Linked DNA regions of Homo sapiens. The protein of the gene in region 1 interacts with the protein of each later gene in a pairwise test. Each region holds a gene or a part of one and is shown in the gene's direction. Other genes may lie near its edges. The genes, in order: FOXD4L6, PLG and ARG2.

The links.
Region 2: the proteins of FOXD4L6 (region 1) and PLG interact in binary tests that used the Homo sapiens proteins (3 or more experiments, as listed by UniProt).
Region 3: the proteins of FOXD4L6 (region 1) and ARG2 interact in binary tests that used the Homo sapiens proteins (3 or more experiments, as listed by UniProt).

Annotation. Positions count from the first base shown.
Region 1 is NC_000009.12:41,126,453-41,130,204, reverse strand, and holds the start of FOXD4L6 (forkhead box protein D4-like 6), read left to right. Parts: upstream 1-1,523; 5' UTR 1,524-1,821; coding exon 1,822-3,075; 3' UTR 3,076-3,752.
Region 2 is NC_000006.12:160,708,615-160,712,266, forward strand, and holds part of PLG (plasminogen isoform 1 precursor), read left to right. Parts: intron 1-2,462; coding exon 2,463-2,577; coding exon of another isoform or gene 2,578-2,581; exon of another isoform or gene 2,582-3,258; intron 3,259-3,652. UniProt on the Homo sapiens protein: Plasmin dissolves the fibrin of blood clots and acts as a proteolytic factor in a variety of other processes including embryonic development, tissue remodeling, tumor invasion, and inflammation. In ovulation, weakens the walls of the Graafian follicle.
Region 3 is NC_000014.9:67,622,865-67,626,516, forward strand, and holds part of ARG2 (arginase-2, mitochondrial precursor), read left to right. Parts: intron 1-3,002; exon of another isoform or gene 3,003-3,652. UniProt on the Homo sapiens protein: May play a role in the regulation of extra-urea cycle arginine metabolism and also in down-regulation of nitric oxide synthesis. Extrahepatic arginase functions to regulate L-arginine bioavailability to nitric oxid synthase (NOS).

The DNA of each region.
Region 1 (3,752 bases):
TTCATGAAGCCAATCTAAAAATCGTGTTACTTCTAAGGATGTGGAGGGAGTGAGATGAACAGTTGTGCTGTCATATTGCCCCTCCCCAGTGCAGATAGTGAATGAGGACCCACTGATTTAAAGGCAACACTGCAGCCCCTTCTTGCCTCATTGAAGTCCCAAGTTTTATTACAGTAAAAGCACTTAATGTTGACATTTCTGAAAGAATGAAGAGGCTGGGCATGGCGGCTCACGCCGGTAATCCCAGCACTTTAGGAGGCTGAGGCAAGCGGATCATGAGGTCAGGACATCGAGACCATCCTGGCTAACACGGTGAAACCCCGTCTCTACTAAAAATATTAGCCAGGCGTGGTGGCGAGCGCCTGTAGTCCCATCTACTTGGGAGGCTGAGGCAGGAGAATGGCGTGAACCCAGGAGGCGGAGCTTGCAGTGAGCTGAGATCGCCCCACTGCACTCCAGCCTGGGCGACAGAGCGACTCCGTCTCAAAAAAAAAAAAAGAAAAAAAAAAAAAAGAATGAAGAGCCAGAGCCAGGCATAGTGGCACGCCTGTAGTCCCACCTACTCAGGAGGCTGAGGCGGGAGGATCACTTGAGCCCAGGAATTCAAAGCCAGCCTGCGCAACATAGACCCTGTCTCTAAAAATGAATTGGTTATAAAGGATGAAGAAAGGAAGGAGGAAAGGGAGAGAGAGAAGCCCTTATAGAGTGGGTGCATTTCTTGTATGTGGGGCCACTTTGTAAGAACAGGATTTTTCAAACTGGGCCCATACTGGTATGTGTGAAATCAATTTAGTTGGTTATGGCCATTTTTTTTTAAAAGGAAATATCAGTGATCACTATAGTGTAAGTATATTGTTTCGTGAAACCCATCTTAGTTATGTATTATGTCTGTATGTGTGAGATTGTGATATAAAATGTATTTCTGTGGTTAAATATTCAAAGAAATTGGAGAACCATTGCTACAAGGGGACAGAGGACTCCGTGTGAGCTCTCCTGCCTTCCCTGAGTAAACTTACACAATTTAGTGCTGGGACATTTGAGCCTTTTCTGAAAATTTGAGTCAGGGAGAGCATCTTGAGGAGGTGGGAAGGAAGGTAGAAGGAGCAAAGCAACACCCCCCTGAAGCCTGGGAATATTGTCAGAACCTTAAATATAATTCAGCTCACCATTCTGGGTAAGGGCAGACTCTACCAATGAAAATGGGTGATTACCAGCTGTGAAACACAAAAACATACTTTTACGGTTACACATTCCTTTACAAACAACCGTGTACATTTCAGCCTCCTGCCCCACCATTTCTTTTCTCCAGGCGGGAAGGCTGCATGTTGAGGTGGTCATAGAATGTTGAGTATCATACTTTCCTACCTCGCTTTTATTTGCGCGGGTTTAAATGCGCCTTAACAGAACCCGTGCAAAGGCTTGCCAACTGTCTGGCTGCACCGGATGAGTAGAGCATCTTCCTTGGTGGCAGGTGGGTGCGAGGAGGAGGGGGCTGGGCTTTTCTCCGGACGGGTGTTTGCCCAGAAGACCATCATCCCTGGACTACGTTAGGAGGAAGTGGCACCGCTCCGAGGTAGGGGAAGAAGGGTTATAAAGGGGGGAGTCCACCACACATGGTCTTGAAGAAGCTTTTATAAAAGGCAAAGGCATCTTTGCCGGACGTTGTTGCAAAGGAGTAGAAACAAGCAGACGAAAACATCCCAAAGGGTAACCACTAGCGTTCCTGCTTCTTGCAACATTCATCCCAGGCTTCCAGCTCAGCCCGCCCCAGGCTAGGTGATCGGTCGCCACATCCCCTGCGACTGAAGCACCTGCTCCTCCATGAACCTGCCAAGAGCTGAGCGCCTTCGCTCCACACCGCAGCGCAGCCTCCGGGACTCCGATGGGGAAGACGGTAAAATCGATGTCCTGGGAGAGGAGGAAGATGAAGACGAGGTGGAAGACGAGGAGGAGGCGGCGAGCCAGCAGTTCCTAGAGCAGTCGCTCCAGCCGGGGCTGCAGGTGGCCCGGTGGGGCGGGGTTGCGCTTCCCCGAGAGCACATCGAGGGCGGCGGCGGCCCGAGCGACCCCTCAGAGTTTGGCACCAAGTTCAGGGCACCGCCAAGGTCTGCGGCGGCCTCTGAAGATGCCCGGCAGCCGGCAAAGCCCCCCTACTCGTACATCGCGCTCATCACCATGGCCATCCTGCAAAACCCGCACAAGCGCCTCACGCTCAGCGGCATCTGCGCCTTCATTAGTGGCCGCTTCCCCTACTACCGCCGCAAGTTCCCCGCCTGGCAGAACAGCATCCGCCACAACCTCTCGCTGAACGACTGCTTCGTTAAGATCCCCCGCGAGCCGGGCCACCCAGGCAAGGGCAACTACTGGAGCCTGGACCCCGCCTCCCAAGACATGTTCGACAATGGCAGCTTTCTCCGGCGTAGGAAGCGTTTCAAGCGCCACCAACTGACCCCGGGAGCCCACCTGCCCCACCCCTTCCCTCTACCTGCTGCACACGCCGCCCTGCACAACCCCCACCCAGGCCCTCTGCTTGGGGCCCCTGCCCCGCCGCAGCCAGTCCCGGGGGCCTACCCCAACACCGCCCCCGGGAGACGCCCTTACGCTCTGCTGCACCCGCATCCTCTTCGCTACCTACTGCTCTCGGCCCCCGTCTATGCCGGGGCACCGAAGAAAGCAGAAGGCGCGGCCCTGGCGACCCCGGCACCCTTCCCGTGCTGCAGCCCTCACTTGGTCCTCAGCCTTGGGAGGAGGGCAAGGGTCTGGCGTCGCCACCGGGAGGCGGATGCATCTCTTTCAGCATTGAGAGTATTATGCAAGGGGTCAGGGGAGCGGGTACAGGGGCTGCGCAGAGTTTGTCCCCGACCGCGTGGAGCTACTGCCACCTGCTCCAGCGACCATCAAGCCTGTTGCATCCCCAGACCGCTGCCCCTTTGCTGCAAGTGTCCGCCGCCGCCGCTGCTCGGACAATTTTGCAGCAATAGCAGCAGCATCAGGAGGAGGACTGCGCCAACGGCTGCGCTCCCACCAAGGGCGCGGTGCTGGGCGGGCACCTGTCGGCCTCGTCGGCCCTGCTGAGGTATCAGGCAGTGGCAGAGGGCTCTAGGCTGACATCGCTGGCTGCCCCTTTGGGCGGAGAGGGGACCTCACCAGTTTTTTTAGTATCGCCCACGCCCAGTTCCCTGGCCAACTCCGCAGGGCCCTCCTAGAGCCAGGTGGGAGTGGGGAGCGACCCGCAGCTGCTCACTTCACCTTGCGCGGCCCATTCAGGGCGTGTGCATCTGAATCCCGCTGGAGAGCAAACACGAACTTCTGTTCGCTGCAAAATGGTTAGAAAGAAACAGCTGGATTACGTTCCTCTAAAAACCACCTGAACGTAACCTTCGCAGGGCGTCAAGTCATCTTTTCTTGCCTTCGGTTGTGGCTTCTATGGCTGTCCCGATTTGCGCATTTCCTGGGGTACTATGAACGTGAGTGGGGTATTTTGTTCTGGCATTAAAAGAAAAACAAGCAAGCAAACAAAAACACAGCCTCCGATGCCAAACATGTTCCCCCTTCTTCACTTCCTTGGAGCTGGAAGTATTATTCCTAAGTCTAGTGCAAAATGCTTCTACTCTCTGTGTCTTCCTGATAGGGATGTTTAATGTAAGTAGGATATTAATTTCAGAACATTGATTTCTTATCTGTGTGTCTGACGTGCCATCTTTAATGTTAAAATTAAGGTGTTAAAATTAAGCCTAGTTATATAGACGAAA
Region 2 (3,652 bases), on another chromosome or scaffold:
TAGTAACAATTTAGCTCTCCAAACATTCTGCATCCCAGGTGTTAAAGAGGACTGGAAACACCTTAGTTCTTGTATTCTTGAGGATGATTTGCCATATTGTGTCTAGTATTACGGCAAAACTCTAAGTAGCATTTTAAATAGTATTTATTTGGGTTGGAATTATTTCTATGCATTGACTCATCTTCCTGGGTTTCATTAGCTGTACGCATTGTACTTCCTTCCTTACCACTATTTATCTCGAATTCTTGAGATTAAAGTGCAGATTAAATCTAAACTTTATCTGGTGAAGTTATTAGTTCTTACAAGTAGCAAGCAAACGGTAAACTAAATAGGATCACCTAATTGTACCAGATTTTAAAAAAAAAAAACCCTGATTCTCCTGATTCTCTCTACAAAATGCTAACATTTAAATATGTCATTTGTAAATTGTTAACCAGAAGGAACATGGGAATGACTGTAGGTTGAGTTTGAAGTCTGAAGTTTGAAGGCTTAGTTTGCTTGTTTTCAAAGTGACAGAAGGGAGCAAAAGGTTATATAAACTCTGATGGGTACATACAAAAAAAAAAGAAGTGAAAAGTCAAAAGTCAGTCATTTTTTGGTCCTTGTTTCTTTGCTGTGGGATATTGACCTGCTACTAACTTACCTGCCAGGGTTTTGCCAGGAACAGTCAGTGTTAGATCACATTTACTTCTGCCACTTGCCACCAGCCACACTGCCTTCACCAAGTCCAAGACCCTATCACCACTGGTTGGGGCTACTTGTAGCTGTACACATGATCTCTAAGAAATGTAACTTCCCTGTTTAAAGCCCTTCCTAGTGCCCTTAAAATAAGACCCAAAGACTTCCCAAATGTGCTAGGGCCCAGCATTATTTAAGTAACCCCCAGCTGCTGTTTGCTTGGCTTGCTAAACTTTTCTACACTGGCCTTACTTCTGTTCCTTCACCACCCCAAGCACACACCCTCCTGCCTGGGACCCTCTTCACCTTTGTCCTGCTGTGCCAGCTCCTTCTTATCTCCTAGGTGTCAGCTCAATCATCATGTCCTTTGCAAATCTTCCTTGACCCCTAGACCTCCCTTTCACAAAGTACCTTGAGTTTACACTTTTGATGAGTGTCTTATGTCTACTGTAATACTATGTCCCAATGAAGATGTACTTGCAATCATAATACGCAGTATTGGGTTAAAAGCATTAGTTTGCTGTAGGTATGTTAGGAGCACTTTCCCCATGTGATTGATCAATTAATTAAAAAATGGCTAAAGTGGGTAACCTTAAATGATGGTGTAAATATACCTTAAACATTTTATATTTTCATTGAAAACACAAGTGTACTTGACACCTTTTGACGTAGAGCAGAGGCTTTTCTTCTTCGAATATGGGGTCACCAGTAGAAGGTCTCTGGTGTATTTCCTGCATAAACTATGCTCCAGTGCAACATCTACAATAATTACTTTCCTTATTTTTGAAGTGGACCATATCTCGACATTTATTAATCAATCTGAATGTGTAAAACCTTTAGATTTTTATGAATTCCTCCTCAAGCTTTATAGTCAACTATATGAGTGGATTGCCCTCTGTGGATTTGATAGCAATTTTTTAAATGATTCATGTTTCAACTTGTTAAAAACATTTAATTTAGTTAAAAACCAAACAAAAAAGAGCTTTGTTTCTTTTCACATTCATTTCTCAGTTTAGATCATCTTTAATTAAATATAAATGTAAGAAAGTTGGAAAATGCAAAGAAATGACTCGTTGTAAGCACATAACTCACGTGGGGGGAACAGACATGGGTGGGCACACTAGCAAACACCTGCCAGCTGCATGTGGACCCAGGTGGGCACCGGACTGTTTTAAACACAGGAGAGGGCCCGTTGTCTAACTGGTGAGTTGGTTGAGTGGAAGCTGGTTGAGAACTTTTACTGCAAACCATTTACAGTAGACCACAATTTTATAGCCCTGTTTGGCACTTTTTCATATCACTGGGAGCCTGAAGAAATAGAAGTGGGTTGGATCTCTTTCAGCCTCTGAAAAGCCTGCCATTCCCCCATCTAAAAAGCCCTTTCCCCATTCTCTCACTCTGTCTCATCATGTATGTAATATGTATCATCATTAAGTGATCTCATTTTATATTGTTTCCTTGAATATTTCCTGTAACCCCCCTGCCTGATTCCACTAGAATGTAAGCTCCATGACGGCCAAGCCTCTGGCTGCACTGTGCCCCGTGTGTCCCCAGCATCCTGGTGGGGCTCGATACACAGAGAGCTCATAAGTAGCATTTGAATACATGAATCAAAGAATGGCTCAGTTTACTGCAGCCTTTTTGCAGATGCAAAAGATGATCTTTTAGAAAGCAGAAACAGGGGGTCTGGTGCATGAGATCTTTTTCTCAACGTGACTATGCTGTGCAGACCTTCATGTGGTGTCTTGTGAAAGACTTTGACCACTGTGTGGACTTCCCTTCAGTGTATCTCTCAGAGTGCAAGACTGGGAATGGAAAGAACTACAGAGGGACGATGTCCAAAACAAAAAATGGCATCACCTGTCAAAAATGGAGTTCCACTTCTCCCCACAGACCTAGGTAAGACATTCCCTTTCATCTTTGTGTTCATCTACTGTAAAGTTGTCCCTCTGTGTCTGTGAGGGATTGGTTCCAGGACCCCTGTGGCTACCAAAATCCATGCTTCTCAAGTCCCTTATATAAAATGGTGCAGTATTTGCATATAACCTACATACCTTCTCTTGTATAATCCCTAATATAATGTAAATGCTATTTAATCGTTGTTATACTGTATTGTTTTTATTTGTATTATGTTTTATTGTCATATTGTTATTTTCTGTCATCTTTTTCAAGTCTTTTCCATCCACAGTTGGTTGAATTTGTGGATCTGGAACCCATGGATACAGAGGGCCAACTGTATTTAGGATAATTTCATCACTTTTAATTCAAACCACAATATGTGAATAAGCAGATAGAAAGAATCTTTTTGATGTCGATGTTCAACTATTTTTGGCACCATAGTAGAACATGGTTGCTTTCTATTTTTTCTTGGATATGGAGGTTTCTTGAAGACCTAGAACATAGAAGAATGCCTAGTTTAAAAAAAATCAATGAAACTATGAGTTTTAGGCCAAATCTGAGAAAAGATCAAAGATGACTATGTTTGGGACTGAAGTAAGCATATCAGGTTAGAACTCTCATCACATGTTCGACTCAAATTGTGGAGCAAAAGAGTAAATAAGATATAAAAATGAAAATGAAGATACGTGAAATTCAAATGTTGCAACTTGCCTATTATTTATTTTAGTGCATTTTTTTGTACTTTTCCCAGTTTGGTGTTAGGTGGCATTAAGTTCTCAGTAATGACGCTTATCAAATAGGAACTTAGTGCTTGTTACTCACCTTTATCCATTCCCCCAACACTCAACAAATTGCCTTTGCTATATCCCTATGAGATGAGCAGATCAAATATTCCCCGTGAGTTAATGAAAACTGATTCAACCAAATGGCAAAGTCAGAGACTATCGGGGGCCATGGAGACACTCTGGGCCATTTTTATGAGGTAGTCTAGGCTCATCTTTATGAGGGAACTGAGGTCTCGGGGGGTGGGGGTTATCCCAAATAGGTTCACAGAAGAACCAGAAATAAAACCTGC
Region 3 (3,652 bases), on another chromosome or scaffold:
AGGCTGCTGAATGAGGGGGAAGGGCACATTTGTAGCAGCTTCTCTTACTCATGCTTTGTAGACTTCCTTTCCTGTCACAGCTCTTGGTATTTTTCCACTCCAACCCAGGGGAAGCCATTCTCCTGTAAATATTACTCCCTCTTTAAACTCCAACCTAAAGTGATGGTGAGGCTTCAGTTTATATGGCCTTCCCTTTGACTTTTTTTCTCAAATATATTTAATTGTACAATTATATCCTTACTGTGTAGCTGACTGGTAGCTCAGTATCACCAGCAGTCTGAAATAGAATCTCATAGCCTATTAAATAAAACTGTGGCTCTCAGCAGATTTCTAGCATGTGGTTTTGGCTAATCTCCTGGAATATATTGGAGAAAAGTACCAAGAGACATTTCAGTTGCTCTGTTCCTAAACAGTACCAAAATAACTTGAGTGTTTTGAACACTTTCAAATAAACAGCATGGATCAAATTTCAAAGGAGAGACTCATGGAAAGGTAACTTTCACAATCCCTTTGTTCCTTGCCTTTGCTCTGATGTCACAGGCTGCCGGTGTTACCATAGCATGAGTTAAATTTCCTGTTTTCTCTCGAATGAATGTATTTGACTTAGTGTCTGGGCTTGTTTTATTTCCTTGGGCTTAGTAAGGACACTCAACAGTACTCTCAGGTAACCTTTTTTTTTTTTTTTTTTTTTTTTTTGAGACGGAGTCTCGCTCTGTCACCAGGCTGGAGTACAGTGATGCGATCTTGGCTCACTGCAACCTCCGCCTCCCGGGTTCAAGCAATTCTCCTGCCTCAACCTCCAAAGTAGCTGGGATTACAGGTGCCTGCCACTGCGCCTGACTAATTTTTGTATTTTTAGTAGAGATGGGGTTTCACCATGTTGGCCAGGCTGATCTCGAACTCCTGACCTCAGGTGATCTGCCCATCTAGGCCTCCCAAAGTGCTGGGATTACAAGAGTGAGCCACTGCTCCCAGCCACCTTTTATTTTTCTTTGAGAGAGGGTCTCACTCTGTCACTCAGGCTGGAGTGCAGTGGCATAGTCACAGCCTACTGCAATCTCAACCTCCTGGACTCAAGCGATCCTCCCACTTTAGCCTCTTGAGTAGCTGGGACTACAGACACATGCCAGTATGCCTGGATAATTTTTTTTTCTTTTGTAGAGCCGGGGTCTCACTATGTTGCCCAGGCTGGTCCCGAACTCCTGGGCTTAAGAGGGCCTAAGAGAAATGAAAAGGCATTGCTCTGGCAAGGCTGAGGAGCAGTATATCTGCACTCGATTTTGGTTAGCTCTGAGAACCATGGTAATTTGTGAATTCTAGCCACCTGTTACCATGTGAGAAGGAGTGGGCCTTGTACTCTTTTCTCCAGTTTTTCAAGAAAAGCCAGAAATTTGCACTTTAATGGGAAATCTGTGTTGTTTTAAAATACTGTATAGTGACACCATTGAAAATGGTGGCATAGGACCTCCAAAAAAGGAATGAGAACTGTATTAGTCTGTTCTTGTACTTTTGTAAAGACATACCTGAGACTGGGTAATTTAAAAAGAAAAGAGGTTTAATTGACTCATGGTTCTGCAGGACATACAGGCTTCTGCTTCTGGGGAGGCCCCAGGAGAATTATAATCATGGCGGAAGGTGAAGGGGAAGCAAGCACGTCTTATATGGCAGGAGCAGGAGGAAGACAGCGAAGAGGGAGGTGATACACACTTTTAACCGGATCTCATGAGAACTCTATCATGAGACAGCACTAGGGAGATGGTGCTGAACCATTAGGAACAACCCCCATGATCCAATCACCTCCCACCAGGCCAGACCTCCAACATTGGGGATTAAAATTCAACATGAGATTTGGATGGGAACACAGAGCCAAACCATATCAAGAACATTGGCAAAAATGATCAGAATCAGCTTTTTCAGAACTCTGGAAATTAACCAAAGGCTTGCAGCAATCTGGGGAGCATTTATTCAAGAAAAACATTGAATCTCAGTAAGAACATTAAGAATTGTGGCATTTTAACTTGCCCTGTTCCCATGCTGCCTTTTCCCAGATCAGCTGTAGCCTGGACAACCGATAGCCTGCAATCACAGTGAAACCAGGAGGCTGGCAGTTACTGCAAAAGGGAGAACAGAGGTGATACTCCTCATAGACCATCCCCAGAAAATTGTCATTTGACTGGTCTGATGGTTTCCTAAAATTGTCCATTCACAAGGCTGTCTTTATTTGACCAACACAAGTCAGTAAGGAAAGAATAGTCTTCAGTAAATGGTGCTGGGATAACTGGATATCCACATTAAAAAAAAAAAAATCCCTATCTCACACCATATATGAAAATTAACTCAAAATGGACCAAAGTCCTAAATGTAATGCTGAAACCATATAACTGTTAGAGAACATAGGACTGGATTTTTGCGACCTTGGGTTAGGTATTGGTTTCTTAGCTATCCCATCAAAATCATAAGTGACAAAAATTAAACTTGACTTAGCTAAATTAAATACATCTATGTTTCAAAGAGCACTATTAAGAAAGTGGGGGCCAGGCACGGTGGCTCACGCCTGTAATCCCAGCACTTTGGGAGGCTGAGGCAGGCGGATCACCTGAGGTCAGGAGTTCGAGACCAGCCTCAACATGGAGAAACCCCATCTCTACTAAAAATACAAAAAAAAATTAGCCGGGCATGGTGGTGCATGCCTGTAATCCCAACTACTCGGGAGGCTGAGGCAGGAGAATTGCTTGAACCTGGGAGGCGGAGGTTGTGATGAGCCGAGATTGTGCCATTGCAGTCCAGCCTGGGCAACGAGAGCAAAACTCCATCTCAAAAAAAAAAAAAAAAAAAAGAAACTGGAAAGACTTCATCAATGTAATGAAAAACCAAAAAAAAAAAAGAGAAAAGGTAAAAAGACTGCCCATAGAATTGGCAAAATATTTGCAAATCATATACCTGATAAGATTCTAGTGTTCGGCAAACATAAATAAAATAACAACCGTAAAAAGACAACCAAATTTAAAAATTAGCAATAGATTTAATTAGCCACTTCTCCAAAGAAGTTATACAAATGGGCAGTAAACACATTAGTCATTACGGAAATGCAAATTTAAAACTACAATGGCCGGGTGTGGCGGCTTACACCTGTAATCCCAGTACTTTGGGAGGCTGAGGCGGGCAGATCATTTCAGGTCAGGAGTTCAAACCAGCCTGATCAACATGGTGAAACTCCGTCTCTACTAAAAAATACAAAAATTAGCCGGATGTGGTGGCACACTCCTGTAGTCCCAGCTACTCAGGAGGCTGAGGTGGGAGAATCACTTGAACCTAGGAGGTGGAGGTTGCAGTGAGCAGAGATTGTACCACTGCACTCCAGCCTGGGCAACAGAGTGAGACTCTGTCTCAGGGGAAAAAAAAAACCACAAAACTACAATGAAATACCATTTCACACCCACTAGGATGGCTATGATAAAAAAGATAGACAATACCAAGTATTGGTGAGGGTGTAAAAAGATTCGACCTGTCATACACTACTGGTGTGAATGTAAAACTGCAGCCACTTTGGAAAACAGTTTGGCAGATCCTCAAAGTTAAATGTATAGTTACTGTGTCCTCAAGCAAATCCATTCCTATGTATATACCTAACAGAATTCAAAACATATATTCA